2 separate regions of the Homo sapiens genome follow, and region 1 is linked to region 2. A link means that fine-mapping ties the variant in region 2 to the expression of a gene that starts in the linked region. Tissue or cell type: whole blood. Region 2 holds a variant in brackets; the other region holds the start of a gene. All regions are shown on one strand. Distances are between the middles of the regions.

The links. PIP is the estimated chance that this variant, and not a neighbour inherited with it, causes the effect.
Region 1: it holds the start of VCL, and the variant in region 2 is fine-mapped to the expression of VCL in whole blood (TOPMed, PIP above 0.99).

Annotation. Positions count from the first base shown.
Region 1 is chr10:73,994,074-74,002,164 of GRCh38, reverse strand. VCL (vinculin) reads right to left here and starts at 4,049. Exons shown (of 22, transcript NM_014000.3): 1 at 3,790-4,049. The coding sequence starts at 3,957. RefSeq lists enhancers at 3,097-3,748, 3,821-4,020 and silencers at 3,701-3,750, 4,081-4,440.
Region 2 is chr10:74,171,528-74,179,629 of GRCh38, reverse strand. All of the region lies in intron 1 of ADK (adenosine kinase), which reads right to left. Among named protein-coding and RNA genes, the nearest start is that of ADK, 24 kb to the right of the region's middle. RefSeq lists enhancers at 3,008-3,127, 2,882-3,828. The variant G/A (reference allele first, on the strand shown) is at 4,879.

The DNA of each region.
Region 1 (8,091 bases), 180 kb after region 2:
AATAAGAGCGTAACTCCATCTCAGAAAAAAAAGACTTCCAATTCAGTATCATACTGATTGTGACAGGCATCACACTTATTGCTTTGACATTGGAAGGGGTCTCAATAAACACCTGCTTGATAAGTGAATGACTATTACAACAATTGAAAATTTCATCTTCATCTAGTAAATTTTAATTATGGAAATATCCAAAAGTCATTTAGGCTCAAGAACAGTAAATGAAGTAGTTGAGCTCAAGAATGCCTACTTCAGTCAAAATGTACACTTTCTTGACCAAAATAAGACTAATTTGGCATACGTATGTAAATAATCTGAAAGAAATTCCCAAAGAAAAGCACTAGAATAAGGATATAACCTCCCAAAGTAACTCCCAAGAAATACTCACCCAGATTACATAAATTCCAGAAGATTTGTTCTAAAATCAGTTTCATTATTTTACCGTAATACTATGTTTCTTTTCTAGCAAATTCAGAGTTCAATTATCCAGTTCTATTATTTCTTCTTCTAATATATTTCTGATTAATTCCTTCTCCATTTTCCCTGCCACTCGCAAGTCCAGGCCTTCATTTTCTTCATAACCAACCAATTTTAAAAGCTTCCCAATTTGTCTCCCTTCCCATAGTTCCTTCAACAATATTTATTGAGTGATCCTATGTGCCAATTTTGAGGGCAGGAACTGAGGACCATATAAAGAAATATCAGACCAGGCACAGTAGCTCACAACTGTAATCCAGCACTTTGAGAGGCCAAGGCGGGAGGATTGCTTGAGCCCAGGGATTCGAGACCAGCCTGGGCAACATAACAAGACCCTGTCTCTATTTAAAACCAAAATAAAATTTTTTAAAAAGAGAGGAATATCAGACAAGGCTTGACCTCCAGGAACAATCTTGAAGCATGTACAGAATCCACATATTTAACGGTCACAGTTGGCACCAAGAATGTGAAGCAATGGGTAGGTCCTCTGGCCTCCCCAAAACACACTATACTATTCTCACACGCCATTCTCACGCAGTCTTTCTCACACACTATTCTCATCCTCCTTCCCCTCCTGCTCTCTTTGTTCATCCTTTTGGATAAGGCCTATGTTACACTGCCCATATGTCACGCACTAACTTCATCTCCAATTTCTCTCCAACTTGTCTCCTGAGCTGCAATCAAGATAATCTACTTGCTGTAACCTGGAAGTGACTTACTCACAAGTACCTTTGTTCATGATTAACTATTTATCAGCACAATCCTCCCTACTTTGTCTCTGCTAACCCATAGCTACCACCAATCTCAAGTCCCCTCTTTTGTATGTGTTGGAAAGTATATAACTTAACTACATATCATTGTTTTCATCTTATAACCTTATTTCTTTTGTATTTGTCTCACAGTGTGTATTACAGTGTTTCCTAACTAAGGCCGTATATCACAATCACCTATGGAGCTTCCTAAAAAATACGAAGGCCTGGCCGGGCACAGTGGCACATGCCTGTAATCTCAGCACTTTGGGAGGCCGAGGCGGGCAAATCACAAGGTCAAGAGATGGAGATCATCCTGGCCAACATGGTGAAACCCCGCCTCTACTAAAAATACAAAAATTAGCTGGCCACGGTGGTGCGAACCTGTAGTCCCAGCTACTCGGGAGGCTAAGGCAGGAGAATCACTTGAACCTGGGAGGAGGACGTTGCAGTGGGCCCAGATCGTGTCACTGCACTCCAGCCTCGTGACAGAGGAAGACTCCATCTCAAAAACAAACAAACAAACAAACAAACAAAGGCCTTCAGCTACTTGGGAGGCTGAGGTGGGAGGATTTTTCTCAGTCCAGGAGATGGAGGCTGCAGTGAGCTATGATCACGCCATTGCACTCCAGCGCCTGCGTGACAGAGCGAGACCCTGTCTCAAAAAAAAAAAAAAAAAAAAGCAAAATACAAAGGCCTTGACCCGTGGGAGCTGGACATCTTAATTTCTAAAAAGCCTCACTGATGATTTTCATGAACACTCTTAAGCTGAGAAGCACTGATTTATTGCAGTGTTTTCCATATAGCAGACATTCAATGCTTATTAATTCATGGCATGGAAGCCCATAAATAACTTTTCTCTAAATAGCCTAACCAGATATCAACCCCTAGACTACACTAGCTCTGTTCCAAGTGCAACATGTGGTTTTAAGATTTCATTTCCTGAAGTACTACATGGAGAGACACTATTACCTTGTCTCTTTACATTGTTTCCTATTTGTTGAAAAATGGAGGCCTGGAATGCAGCCATGTTAGACAACACTACATAAGAATGTACTCTGGAGTGTTCTGTTCAAATTAGTTATAAAAAGAAGAACAATGTACAAGTAGACATTGTGAATGAATACAGCATTCTTACTGAATGAATAGATTCTTACTAAAGCTATAGAGAAGAAAGATCAGGAATTTGGTCGGTGGTGTCACCCTGTCTTCCTAGCTACCAGTCTCCTAAATTGCTTGAGACAGTCCAGGGACCCCTGAAGACTGAGGAAGACTTTCAGCTGCTAAAGAGCCTCTAAGTGCACTAAAGTGCTCAAATCAGAAAAGTAACCCAAGCCCCACCCAGACAGACCCACAGTTGCCGCCCAACTGCCCTGACACACACTATTTACACAGCTCAGTGGGGGAGCAGTATGAACTTTTTCCAAAATTGTTCCTCACAAGCAGGACCAGTCTGAGTCACCCACCCAGGGTGGGAAAGAAAAGTGTGACATTAGCCAGGGGAGTCTTGGGAGACTGGTCTCAGCACCTCTTTTTTCCCATTTCAGACGTGGGCTCCACCTCCTCCAGGAATCACCTCGGTTATGAGTCACAGCTGTGGGTTACAGGGGTCTGCAGAGCCACCAGGAAAGTTGTGGATGGGGAGCGGATGCCCCAGCCTTCTCTCCGGCAGGGGCGGCAGATCCCAGATTCCACAGGCCTCTCCCAACAGCTCCATCTTGCTTCCTGCCAGGAGGAGGGGCCAAGGAGGGCCCCCGAGTCTAGAAAGGCCCCAGTGGGAGGAGGCCGTTTGACAGCAGGTAACGCCAGGTGAAAATGTCCACAGGAGGGAATGAAAGGAAGGGCAGCAGGGCTGAGCGGAAGGAAAAACCGGGCTTGTGGTCACGAATGACTGCATAAAGGTGTGAGAGTGCCAGAGGAGTGAGCATAAGTAAAATGCCCAGGAGGGAGGAGGAGGCGACAGAGAGTGAGGCAAGTGAATAAAAGGGCGGAATACAGGGAGCTCTGGGGAGCGGGGGTGGGCGAGGCGGGTCTCAGGGTGAGGGGCAGAAGTATTAGAAAGGAGGACAACGTGGCTCAAATAAGGATCCCTAGAAGAGAAGGCAAGGGATCCGTGGGAAGGCCCGCTCTCCCTCCCCCGCACAGCCAGATCGAGGAGGCCTAAAAGGCGCTGAGAGCGAGGAAGTCAACGTGGGGGCGAAGCCTGCGCGGGGCAGGGACCCTCGGACATCCCAGCAACTCTCATTTATTGGGTGTCTGCTGTGGGCCACACGCCGCGCGAGGCACTCCACGAATAATACCTCGCCATATCTTCACGACAAGCCCGCAAGGCAGCCTTTTTCATGACTGCTCCCATTTTATAGATGAGGACACTGAGGCCCGGAGAGGCTCAGGACTCGCTCAAGGTCACAGGGCGGAGAAGAGGCCATTCGAACCCTCGGCGCCTGGCTCCGGAACCCACGCGGAAAGCCACGGCCAGCGAGCCGGCCACAGGCAGCCGCGACGCGGGCCGGGGCCCCGGGGATACCTCCCGCGCCCGCTCCCGCGCCAGGCCCTGCGCGCTCACCCGGACGAGGTTGCTGACGGCCGCCTGCACGGCGGCCACGGGCGCGGTGAGGTCAGGAATGGCTTTGCCGTCCACCTCGCCCTCCTCGTGCATTATCACCAGGTGGGAGATCTGCTGTGCCACCGGCTCCAGGATGCTCTCGATCGTGCGCGTATGAAACACTGGCATCGCGGCGGCGAGCGGGGCGGCGAACCGCGGGCGACAGAGAAGTAGGATCCACGGGGCCGGGAACCGGCGAAGAGACAGACTGTGCAGCGACTACGGAGTCGGGGCTTCCCTCGGCGTAACCAGCCTCACGGGCTCCCCGCCCCCTCTCGTCGCCGCGCCCAATGGCAGCGCAGCTCAGACCTGGGCCGCCACTCCTACTGGTCCCTTTTCGAGATGCTCCGCCCCAGCCACCGCGCCGCCAAACCCCGCCCCTCCCCCATTCCTAAGGGAGGGGCCTGGGATTGGGGCTGAGCCGCCGGGATTGCTACCGGATTCCCGAGCCCTAACGCCGGGCGCTCCTTATAAGGGCATGGTGGGAGCGGAGCGGGCCGCTGGAGCCGGCTGGTCCCGCCCCCGGGCCGCCTCCCGCCTCGGATCTGGGGGGCTCCGCCCCTCTGCAGAATCACCTCAGCGGGGCGGGGTCTCCTCACCTCAAGCGGCGCTAGAGTTTGATGAGACCAAGGGGTCTCCCACGTCCCCTCCTCAACTTTTCCCTTCACACGAAACCCTCAAAATACTCCTTCCATTCCCTCCCAGCAATGCATGGGAAGGTTTTTAGTAAAAGATTCAAACAGCAGAGGTGCACTGAGAAACAGCAGCGTCCCATTCACGTAAACGCAGACTCCGCCCCCTGCCCTCCTCAAAGACATTCTGTTTAACAGCTGGGTGTGTAGCCTTCTAGACTTGTCTATAGATTCACTTCTACATATATATTTTCTAACTAAATGAGATTAATAAACATTTTCCTGGAACTAGGTATGATTGCCCTTGATTAAAATGCCCTTATCTTTCACTGCTGGTAGAGGTCTACCTCATTCTTCTTAATGACTGCATGATATTCCATTGCATGAAATAAAACTATTTACAGAACCAATTTCCTACTCATGGACTTGGGTTGGGTCCTGGTTTTCACTATTAAAAAACAATTCTGCATGAATTGTACTTACCCCTGTGCTGTGCATCTGTGTATTTATCTAGCGCAAATGCCTACCAGGAAAGAGAAAAACGCAAAAGTATATGCATTTTATATTTTGATAGGTAAGACCAAATTATCCAGTTCCCTCACGCTTTGTATAAGACATCTTCCAGGCCGGGCGCGATGGCTCACGCCTGTAATCCCAGCACTTTGGGAGGCTGAGGCGGGCGGATCACGAGGTCAGGAGATCTAGGCCATCCTGTCTAACACGGTGAAACCCCGTATCTACTAAAAATACAAAAAAAATAGCCAGGCGTGGTGGCGGGCGCCTGTAGTCCCAGTTACTCATGAGGCTGAGGCAGGACAATGGCGTGAACCCGGGAGGCGGAGCTTGCAGTGAGCGGAGATCGCGCCACTACACTCCATCCTGGGCGACAGAGCAAGACTCTGTCTCAAAAAAAAAAAAAAAAAAAAAAAGACATCTTCCAAACGTCTTACTTACTTCAAATTCGCTTTTGCCCAAGCTTTCCCATTCTGAGGTAAACACTTTCAGTAATGCCTCCAAGCAAAAGATTCTCACATCAAATGAAAATTTTTGTCTAGTCCTACCACAACCACCACAGCTGTTTTCTCTGCCCATTACTTTGTGTTAATAGTATAAATATTTGGGTGATGGGGCCAGGCACGGTGGCTCACGCCTGTAATCCCAGCATTTTGGGAGGCTGAGGCAGGCAGATCACCTGAGGTCAGGGGTTCAAGACCAGCCTGGCCAACCTGGTGAAACCCCGTCTCAACTAAAAATACAAAAATTAGCCAGGTGTGGTGGCAGGTGCCTGTAATCCCAGCTAATCGGGAGGCTGAGACAGGAGACTTGCTTGAACCTGGGAGGTGGAGGTTGCAGTGAGCTGATACCGTGCCATTGCACTCTAGCCTGAGCAACAGAGTGAGACTCCCTGTCCAAAAAAAAAAAAGTTGAGTGATGGAACGATATGATTTTTTTATTTTAAAAATTATTTTATTTTATTTATTTTTATTTATGTTTTTATTTTTTGAGATAGGGTCTCACTCCGATTGTCCAGGCTGGAGTGCAGTGGTGTGATTTCGGCTCACTGCAGCCTTGACCTCCCCAGGCTCAGGTGATTCTCCCACCTCAGCATCCCAAGTAGCTGGGACCACAGGTGCATGCCACCACGCCCGGCTAATTTTTGTATTTTTGATAGAGACAAGGTTTCGCCATGTTGTCCAGGCTGATCTCAAACTCCTGGACTCAAGAAATCCACCTGCCTTGGCCTCCCAAAGTATAAATGGCCTCCCAAAGTATATATAGCCTCCCAAAAAGTGTATGATTTTGTTAAATCCTCACCCTGTCCCCACTTTGCTGATTGTATATTTATGTGTAGTTTAACTTGTTCTTCTGAACTATATATTTCCTACAGATTGGCAGGAAGACTCAGAGGCTTGATCATGTAATCATCTTTAATGCCTGACTGGCCATATTAACCTCCCAAAAAGAATATCACATTGCACATCCAGCCCATGTGCTCCCCAACATCCATAATCATACCCATTTCCGTCCCCCTGATTTCCACATTCACTGGCTCCCTCTAAAATCTTTCTTGGTGCCTGTTAGCATGTGTTAACACCAATGCCCTCCACAATCTGGGTCCAGACCAACCTTACTGCCTTCAGCTTCCCCACCTTAGACCCACAGACAGGCAGGTTAAACAGTGCAAACAGCATAAATTCAGAGCCATCCAGAGCTCAAGCCAGAACCCCAGCTTCACAACTTGATGGAGATATAACTCCGGCAAGTGGGATAATAGCACCGTCACAGAGCTGATGTAAGGGAATTTGTAAAGCACCTAGGAGACCTTCAGTAAAAGAAACCATTATCATTATTAGAGCAGTCACAAACTGACATATTCACAGTCTCCAGAAATTCCTGGTAGAGTTTCACTTTTGAGCTTTTCTCCACATTTCTTTCCCACCTAGAAAGCTATCAGTGCTTGTCTAACTCTTACCTATTGTGGTAGACAGAATTCTAAGATGTCCCCCGGGATTTCTCACTCCGAATATACACACTCTCCATAATCCCCAGGCTGTGACTATAAGGGATTTTACTTTCATAATCAGATTACATTATATAGCACAGTTGGTCTTAAAACAGGGAGATTATCCAAGTGGGCTTGACCTAATCACATGAGCTCTTTTAAAGCAGAGAGTTTTCTCTGGCCAGTTACAACAAATGAACTCAAAAGCACAAGAGGATTTGATGAGCTGTTGCTAGATTAAAGACGTGGGAGGCCATGGGTCAAGGTATGTGGGCAGCCCCTAGGAGCTGAGAGTGGCCCCTGACAGCTAGCAAGGAAACGGGGAAGTTGGTCGCACAGTTACAAGGAGCTGAACTCTACCAACAAGAAGAATGATCTTGGAAACAGATTTTTCCTCCAGCTGAGAGCTCCAGGGGACACCTTGTTTTCAGTCCAGTAGACACCTTTATTTCAGCTTTGCGACACTGAGCAGAGAACCCAGTCACACCATGCAGGACTTCTGACCTACACAGTTGTGAGATAATAAATGAGTGTTGTGGCCAGGCGCGGTGGCTCACACCTGTAATCCCAGCACTTTGGGAGGCTAAGGCGGGTGGATCATGAGGTCAAAAGATCGAGACCATCCTGGCCAACATGGTGAAACTCCGTCTCTACTAAAAATACAAAAATTAGCTGGGCATGGTGGTGCGTGCCTGTAGTCCCAGCTACTTGGGAGGCTGAGGCAGGAGAATCACTTGAACCCGGGAGGCAGAGGTTGCAGTGAGCTGAGATCATGCCACTGTACTCCAGCCTGGTGACAGAGCGAGACTCCGTCTCAAAAAATAGTAATAATAAGGCCGGGCGTGGTGGCTCACGCCTGTAATCCCAGCACTTTCGGAGGCCGAGGCGGGTGGATCACGAGGTCGAGAGATCGAGACCATCCTGGCTAACACGGTGAAACCCCGTCTCTACTAAAAATACAAAAAATTAGCTGGATGTGGTTGCGGGCACCTGTAGTCCCAGCTACTCGGGCGGCTGAGGAAGGAGAATGGCGTGAACCTGGGAGGCGGAGCTTGCAGTGAGCGGAGATTGCGCCACTGCACTCCAGCCTGGGCAGTAGAGCGAGACTCCATCTCAAAAATAATAATA
Region 2 (8,102 bases):
GGTAAGGTCTGAACGTTGCCATGGCATTTGTAAACTGTCAATGGCACTGGTGGGAGTGTATTTTAGCATGCTAATACATTATAATTAGTGTATAATAAGCAGTGAGGATGACCAGAAGTCACTCTCATCACCATCTTGGTTTTGGTGAGTTTTTGCTGGCTTCTTTACTGCATCCTGTTGTAGGGTCTTTGTGACCTGTATCTTCTGACTATCTCCTATCTCATCCTGTGACTAAGAATGCCTAACCTCCTAGGAATGCACCCTGGTAGGTCTCAGCCTTATTTTACCCAGACCCTATTCAAGATGGAGTCGCTCTGGCTCAAATGCCTCTGATAGGAACATGTCTGACATCATTATTGCAAAAACTAAAGATATGACATAATTGTATTAAATGTAGTGTTCACCAGGAAATGGCTGGTATCTGTAGGATGACCAACTCATTCAAAACTATCACCATACAGAGTCACTTCACTTTCAATGGCCTCCCTGCACTTCCCAACACCCAGTAGTTGTGTTCTCTTGGCTAACCCTGCCTACTTCTAAACCCCAGTTATCAAGTTCGTTGCAGGATAAGAAGAAAGCAAAAGAGTTACTATAGTTGTCTCTCATGATACTTTACAATTTCTGTCCACAGAAACAGCTTTTTCAGGAAGTTTAAATAGTATATTGTTTCTACAAAGGCACCATGCAGAGCACTAAATCATGGAAATCTGGATTCAATTCCTAATTTTGCCGCTGATTTTGCACAAGGCACTCAACTTTTGTCTCAGTTTCCTCAGGTGTAAAATGTAATAGCTGGTTTAAATAACATCTAAAAGAGCTTTCTCGAGCCATGTTACCATAGTTCAAGATTATGTAAAATACAGACTGACATCTGAAGAAACAAGCATAAATAAATTTTATTATCAGTTATCCATCCTTTCAAAACATGTCAAGTAAGGCTGGTGTCAACCTTTACATCAGTCTTTTAAAAAAAACTATCAACCCCTACAGTAAAAGATACATCCTGCTGTCACTTATTAAACAGCAGAAGCTTTAGATTTGGATGTTTCTCCAATGAGGCACGGTCAGGAAGATGATAGTCAATTAAAACTGAATCCACATAACAACTGATTCTTAACACAGAAAGTATTTGACCCCTACACCTAATTAGTAGCATTCTGTGATAATAAGAGTGGGAATGGGAAGAAGGGGAATTAACTCTGGGTATAATAGCCTAATTCTAATTCATCCTAAAATACTGTTAGCTTTAAAAGCTAGATTTATATGCCCCAATATAATTTACTGTGAAATCCTTCCATGTGGGTCTCCATGTTTCAGCACCTGAATCTCCTTCTGCATAATGAGATAAGTACTTTGTCTATGTTAGTACAGAATGAAGCAATTTAGACCAGTAGCGGTGGCTCACTCCTGTAATCCCAACACTTTGGGAGGCTAAGGCAGGTGGATCACTTGAGGTCAGGAGTTCGAGACCAGCCTGGCCAATATGGTGAAACCCCCATCTCTACTAAAACTACAAAATTAGCTGGGTGTGGTGGCTGGCGCCTATAATTCCAGCTACTTGGATGGCTGAGGCAGGAGAATCGTTTGAACCCGGGAGGCGGAGATTGCAGTGAGCAGAGAGCGCGCCATTGCACTCCAGCCTGGGCAACAAGAGCGAAACTCTGTCTCAAAAAAAAAAAAATATATATATATATATATATATAATTATGCAATTTAAGAGACAGACTATGTCCGAGTTCAGCACAGTTAGATCTTACTGAGGGTTAGGTTCCCAAGCTGTCTCTTAAACACAATGTAGTAAAAATTGGCATTGAGAAGCCCTCAAATCACCAGGACGGGTGGAGCCTGGAAAGCTCATAGACCAAAAATGAGCTTATTTTATTTCTCTTCACATTTTTGTGCTGGGGCCTCCCTTTCTCTGGGACAACAAAGCCCAAGTTCTGCTTTTAAAAAGGCCAGTCAGAACACTGGGTATATAAGGCAATTTATCTCTTTTTATAAATAGTTGAACTAGCGTAAATTAAACATTCAGTCAAGGCTACTGGGAGAAAGTGGACAAGCCCATTATCCTGTCCTCATTAACAAAAAAAGAACCTTCCAAACTGGAAGAGCAATTGGGGGAAAGTCTCCAGTTTCATGGATTTCGCTACATGCCCAGTATCTCTCAACTCATTTCACTTGTGACTCTGAGATAAAAGGAGTAAAGAAACAAGATGGTACCTTCGGGAACCAGGGTCCTAATTCCAGTCATGAGCAAACATTTTAGAGACACACAATTTCACAACTTGAGGGCAATATACCTGCATCAGAGAAGGGCCAACTTTGCAGGTCTGCTCCCGGCCAACAATGAAGTTCTGTCAGAGGGCATGACACGCAGGCATGACACACACTGTGCACGCCACGCTCCCTCCGGCCCTGGGCCGCCCCCGGGGGCGCGGGTGGGGCACATTTTTCATGGGAAATCCACTACACACCCAAGAACGCTTGCAACCCTGGAATTTGGGCGAGGGTCACCTCGACCAAGCAGCGACACACAGAACTCCGCAATGTGCCACAGACCCGAAAACTTCTGAGGAAAGCAGAAATGCCCAAATGAAAAGTGCGGAGGGAACCCCCAACACGAGGGGGACCAGAGGCGGAGGCAGGCTCCAGACCACCCGCGAGAAGGAGCGACAGTGCTCACGCGCTCGGGAGGCTAACGCCCAGCTCGGAGCAGTCAAGGCAGCCGCCCGCTCGTTACCTGACTGACGTCATGGCTTCGCCCTCCTGCCCAGCGCCACGGCGCCCGCGTCCGATGCTCTACGTCCGCTCGGGCAGCAGCAGGTACCACAGCAACTGCTTCCCGGCTCAGGCACTCAGCGACTGGGAGCGCGTCCTCACACACCCCGCGCGCGGGCGGCCCCTGGCTAGCCGGCCCGGCGTGCTGATTGGAGGGAAGGCGGGCGCTCCGCCCCGTGCGAAGGGCTGGAGATCGTCCCCAGACGCCGTGGGCCACCGCGTGTCTCGTGCCAGCTCACTGGCGCGCGGGCTAGCGAGATGACTAGCGGGCGCGGTGGCCATCTTGAGTCCTAGTAACAGCGTCCCGTCACCCCGCAGTTTACAGGGCGAGAGATTGGGTGCCCGCCCCAAAAATGGCCGCGCCTCTGGCAACCGGTTTAGCAGTCACGTGGCCACTGTCTACCTCGGCAAGCTCAGCTCCCTGTAACAGCACTTAGGAAAGAGGCGCTGTCAGGGCAGGTCTTCGGGAGTGGGATTTAACAGCCTGCAAAATCCATCTGCAAAGGTGGGGGGAAAAAAAGCAACAGCCTGGGAAGCCTCAGCCTAGGAAAATATAAAATGCCTGGCAACGGCAGCACGACGTACTAATTCCAGTCCGCAGCCTTTGAGAGTCAATTGCTGGATCTGATGGTCCCAAACGTTCCTGAACTTCAGAAACACTTAGAGCAGCTTATTTAATATGGAAAGTGTCACTTTATGTATCCGAATCTAGAAAGGTAGGCCTGGACATCGGTATTTTTAGCAAGTTACCAGGTGAATCAGGTACAGACATAAAATTTTACAACCTCTGGGCCCCACTCAAGGCTATCCTATTTGACACAATTACCTCACTTTCCAAAGAAGCATGCGGGCTATAAAAAAAAAAGAATCTAAGACCATAGAGGGGAAAAGTGGATGGCACCCTAACTCCTGGCTCTAATCTTACAGTTTAATGCAGTTGAAGAGTTAAGAAATTGTGAACCAATAAAAGGAAAATTAACTCCAACTATGAAAAGGGGGGAATCAGTAAATGCTTTATGATCCAAATTGCTTTTATTCCTTTATTCTCTGTGCAATAATTTTTTTAATTTTCATTTTTTTATTTTTGTAGAGACAGGGTCTCACTATGTTGCCCAGGCTGGTCTTGAACTCCTAGCCTCAAGCAACCCTCCCACCTTGGCCTCCCAAAGCACTGGGAATATAGGTGTGAACGACTGGGCCCTGTTCTACAATGTTATTAATAGACTACAATATCCTGTGGCATTAACTTACTGACCATCTAGGATGGTGATCAATTTCATATGTCTGAAATCAGTTATATCAGAAGCAACCAATACCATCCGATATTGAAATGTGGCTGATGGGACTGAAGAACTTAATTTTTAATTTATTTAATTTTAATTCATTTAAATTTTATAACTGAAGCAATATATTTTTCCACTAAACACAATTGTATTGTTTTAGTTGGACTACATTTCACTTTTTTTTTTTTTTTGAGCTGGAGTCTTGTTCTGTCGCCCAGGTTGGAGTGCAGTGGTGCGATCTCCAACCTCTGCCTCCTGGGTTCAAGCGATTCTTGTGCCTCAGGCTCCCGAGTAGCTGGGACTACAGGCATGCGCCACCGTACCTGGCTAAATTTTTTTGTATTTTTGGTAGAAACGGAGTTTCACCATGTTGGCCAGGCTGGTCTCAAACTCCTGGCCTCAAGCGATCTGCCCGCCTCAGCCTTCCAGGCGTGAGCCAACACTCCTGGCCTCTTTTTTACCTTTTTTAATGTGGCTACTAGAAAATTTAAAATTACAGGAATCTTGCATTATATTTCTACAGAACAGTGCTGCTCTAGTCTAAGTTAGCTTTACCTATCACTGTCCCTGTGATAGAATAATTAAGTTCACAAAATGAAATTAGTAAGGAAGCCAGTTTATACAAATCTGTTTTCTTGCTAGCCATAAAACACATCAAATATTCCAGAAGATTTCAAGTTTCTTTAGAAAATGCTATTTTTAGCACTGTTCTCTTTAACCTGGGAAATGCCTATCCAGAATGAAGCCATGGTCTATAAAACTGATGTGTTCAGTCCATGAGTAAAAGCTGTTAAAACACTGAGCTATACTTGGC[G/A]TGGTTAAGACTTTGACCGAAGGTCCACAAGCAGAATTAGTCAATTGTTCCTCTGGATTAAACAGGATCTGAAGCAAAGCAGCAGCTGGATTAGCAATTCACAGTGGTGGAGACACTGGCTAGAGTTACCCACCTTCTCTTGTGGAAAATGTTGATAGATAATCCACATTTCACACCATCAGTGCTTTTCAAACTTTAACATGCATACAAATCTCGTGGATCTTGTTAAAATGCAGGTTTGGCACTGCAGGTATCAGTGACCAAAATTTTGCATTTCTTTATGTTCCCAGGTCTCACTAATTGCTTCTGGTCTGTGGGCCAGGCTGAGTAGCAAGCCTGTAAAGGTAGCAAAAGGTATCTGGTTTGCAACTTCTGCTTGACTTCCTATTACCTGTATGACTTTAAGCTGGTTCTTTTTTTTTTTTTTTTTTTTTTTTTGAGATGGAGTCTCAGTCTATCACCCAGGCTGGAGTGCAGTAGCATGATCTCGGTTCACTGCAACCTCCGCCCCCATCCCCGGGGTTCAAGCAATTCTCCCACCTCAGCCTCCCGAGTAGCTGGGACTAAAGGCACGCACCACCATGCCTAGCTAATTTTTTTTTCGTGTTTTTAGTAGAGACAAGGTTTCACCGTGTTGGCCAGGCTGGGCTTGAACTCCTGACCTCAAGTGATCCGCCCACCTCAGCCTCCCAAAATGCTGGGAATACAGGCATGAGCCACCACACCCAGCCTTTAAACTGGTTCTTAAACTGTCTGTCCCTCGGTTTACCCATTATATGCTGTTCAGGGCACTGTGAAGATTAAAATTTAATTAACTATAGTAAAGAGTCTAATAGAATCCTTGGCACATGGCATAATTATTACTTTGTTATTATCATAATAGTTAAACTTACATCTCTGGAGGCATGATCCCAAAGCTAACATGAACTTGGCCCTCTGAACAATCAAATGCACTTTTGCTCATGCTTAACATACTTTGGTAACACCTACCTTTGATTTGTAACATTAAAATTTTCAAATTAAAGCCAGGCACAGTGGCTCACGCCTGTAATCCCAGCACTTTGGGAGGCTGAGGCAGGAGGACCACAAGGTCAGGAGTTCGAGACCAGCCTGGCCAATATGGTGAAACCCCATCTTTACTAAAAATACAAGAATTAGTTGGGCGCGGTGGCACACACCTATAGTCCCAGCTACTTGGGAGGCTGAGGCAGGAGAATCACTTGAACCTGGGAGGCAGAGGTTGCAGTGAGCTGAGATTGCTCCACTGCACTCCAGCCTGGGCAACAAGAGCAAGACTCCATCTCAAAAGAAAAAAAAAAAGAAAGAAAAAGAAAAAAAATTTTCAATTTGAAAAAACCTAGCCGGGCGCAGTGGCTCACACCTGTAATCCCAGCACTTTGGGAGGCCAAGGCGGGTGGATCACGAGGTCAGGAGATCGAGACCATCCTGGCTAACACAGTGAAACCCCATCTCTACTAAAAATTAAAAAAAAAATTAGCCGGGCGTGGTGGCGGGTGCCTGTAGTCCCAGCCACTTGGGAGGCTGAGGCAGGAGAATGGTGTGAACCCAAGGTGGAGCTTGCAGTGAGCAGAGATCATGCCACTGCACTCCAGCCTAGGTGACAGAGCAAGACTCCATCTCAAAAAAAAAGAAAAAAAAAAAACTAATTTTGATACCAAAACAGGTAGTCTTAAAACTTTATTTTTTAACAAATATACTAAATTCAGTATAATTAAGGGAAGATATGGGTCTGCAATATTAAAATAGTTAATAAAATTGAAGCCACACCAAAGATATTTTTTAACTCATTTTTGATATTTGCATCTAACCGTTTTTTTTTTTTTTTTGACATGGAGTCCCACTCTGTCACCAAGCTGGAGGGCAGTGGTGCACTCTTGGCTCACTGCAACCTCTGCCTCCCGGGTTCAAGCAATCCCCTAGGCGTGCGCCACCAGGCCTGGCAAATTTTTTGTATTTTAGTAGAGATGGGGTTTCACCATGTTGGCCAGGATGGTCTTGATATCCTGACCTCGTGATCCGCTTTTTTTTTTTTTTTTTTTTTGAGATGGAGTTTCACTCTTGTTGCCCAGGCTGGGGTGCAATGGCGCGATCTCGGCTCACTGCAACCTCTGCCTCCCAGGTTCAAGTAATTCTCCTGCCTCAACCTCCCTAGCAGCTGGGATTATAGGCATGTGCCACCATACCCGGCTGATTTTGTATTTTTAATAAGAGATGGGGTTTCTCCATGTTGGTCAGGCTGGTCTCAAACTCCCAACCTCAGGTGATCCGCCCACCTCGGCCTCCCAAAATGCTGGGATTACAGGTGAGCCACCGCGCCCAGCCAATCAGCTGTCTAGCCAGGTGCAATGGCTCACACCTGTAATCCCAGCACTGAGGGAGACCAAGGCAGGAAGACCACTTGAGCCTAGGGGTTCAAAACCAGCTTGGGCAACATAGGGAGACCACACACCTGTAGTCCGAGCTACCTGGGAGGCTCAGATGGAAGGATGGCTTGAGCCCAAGAGTTCAAGGCTACAGCAAGCTGTGTTTGCGCCGCTGCAATCTAGCCTGAGAGATAGAACAAGACCCTGTCTTAAAAAAAAAAAAAAAAAAAGAAAATCCATGTACTGTAGGAAATGAAAAAAAAGTTTTTTATTAATGGTCAAAAAAATTTTCAAAAAGTTTATTCTCTCAAAATTTAAGTACCAGTCGTGTCAGCAGTTACAAACACAAAAATATTATTTCAAGAAAGAGGACTCATGTGATCTTTCAGAGTCAATAATGTAGCGACAAAAGTAAAGATATATTTTCCCAGGTAAAGGCAGAAGTTCTGTTATTCACAGCAACTTCCCTTCCCCAGCCTTTCATGCTCTATTTCTAATCTTTCCATTCTACTCTTTTTCTAAATACACACACACACACACACACACACACACACACAGAGAGACAGAGAGAGACAGAAAGAGAGTGAGCGCTGAGAGAGAGAGTACTGAGTAACTACTACTTTTGATCAATTTTCTAAACAATTTATTTCAACCCTATTTTTTTCCTAAAAGCCTAGCTTATCCTACTTTAGGAGAAAATAGTCAACTGAAATTTTTAACCTTCAGTAGTCTTTTTACAATTAGAATAGCTGAATCAAGATAAGTGGGTCTGAATAGTTTGCTCTTCGTAAGACTGATATGTAAATATTCCATATACTTTATCTAATCTTGTGGTCTGGC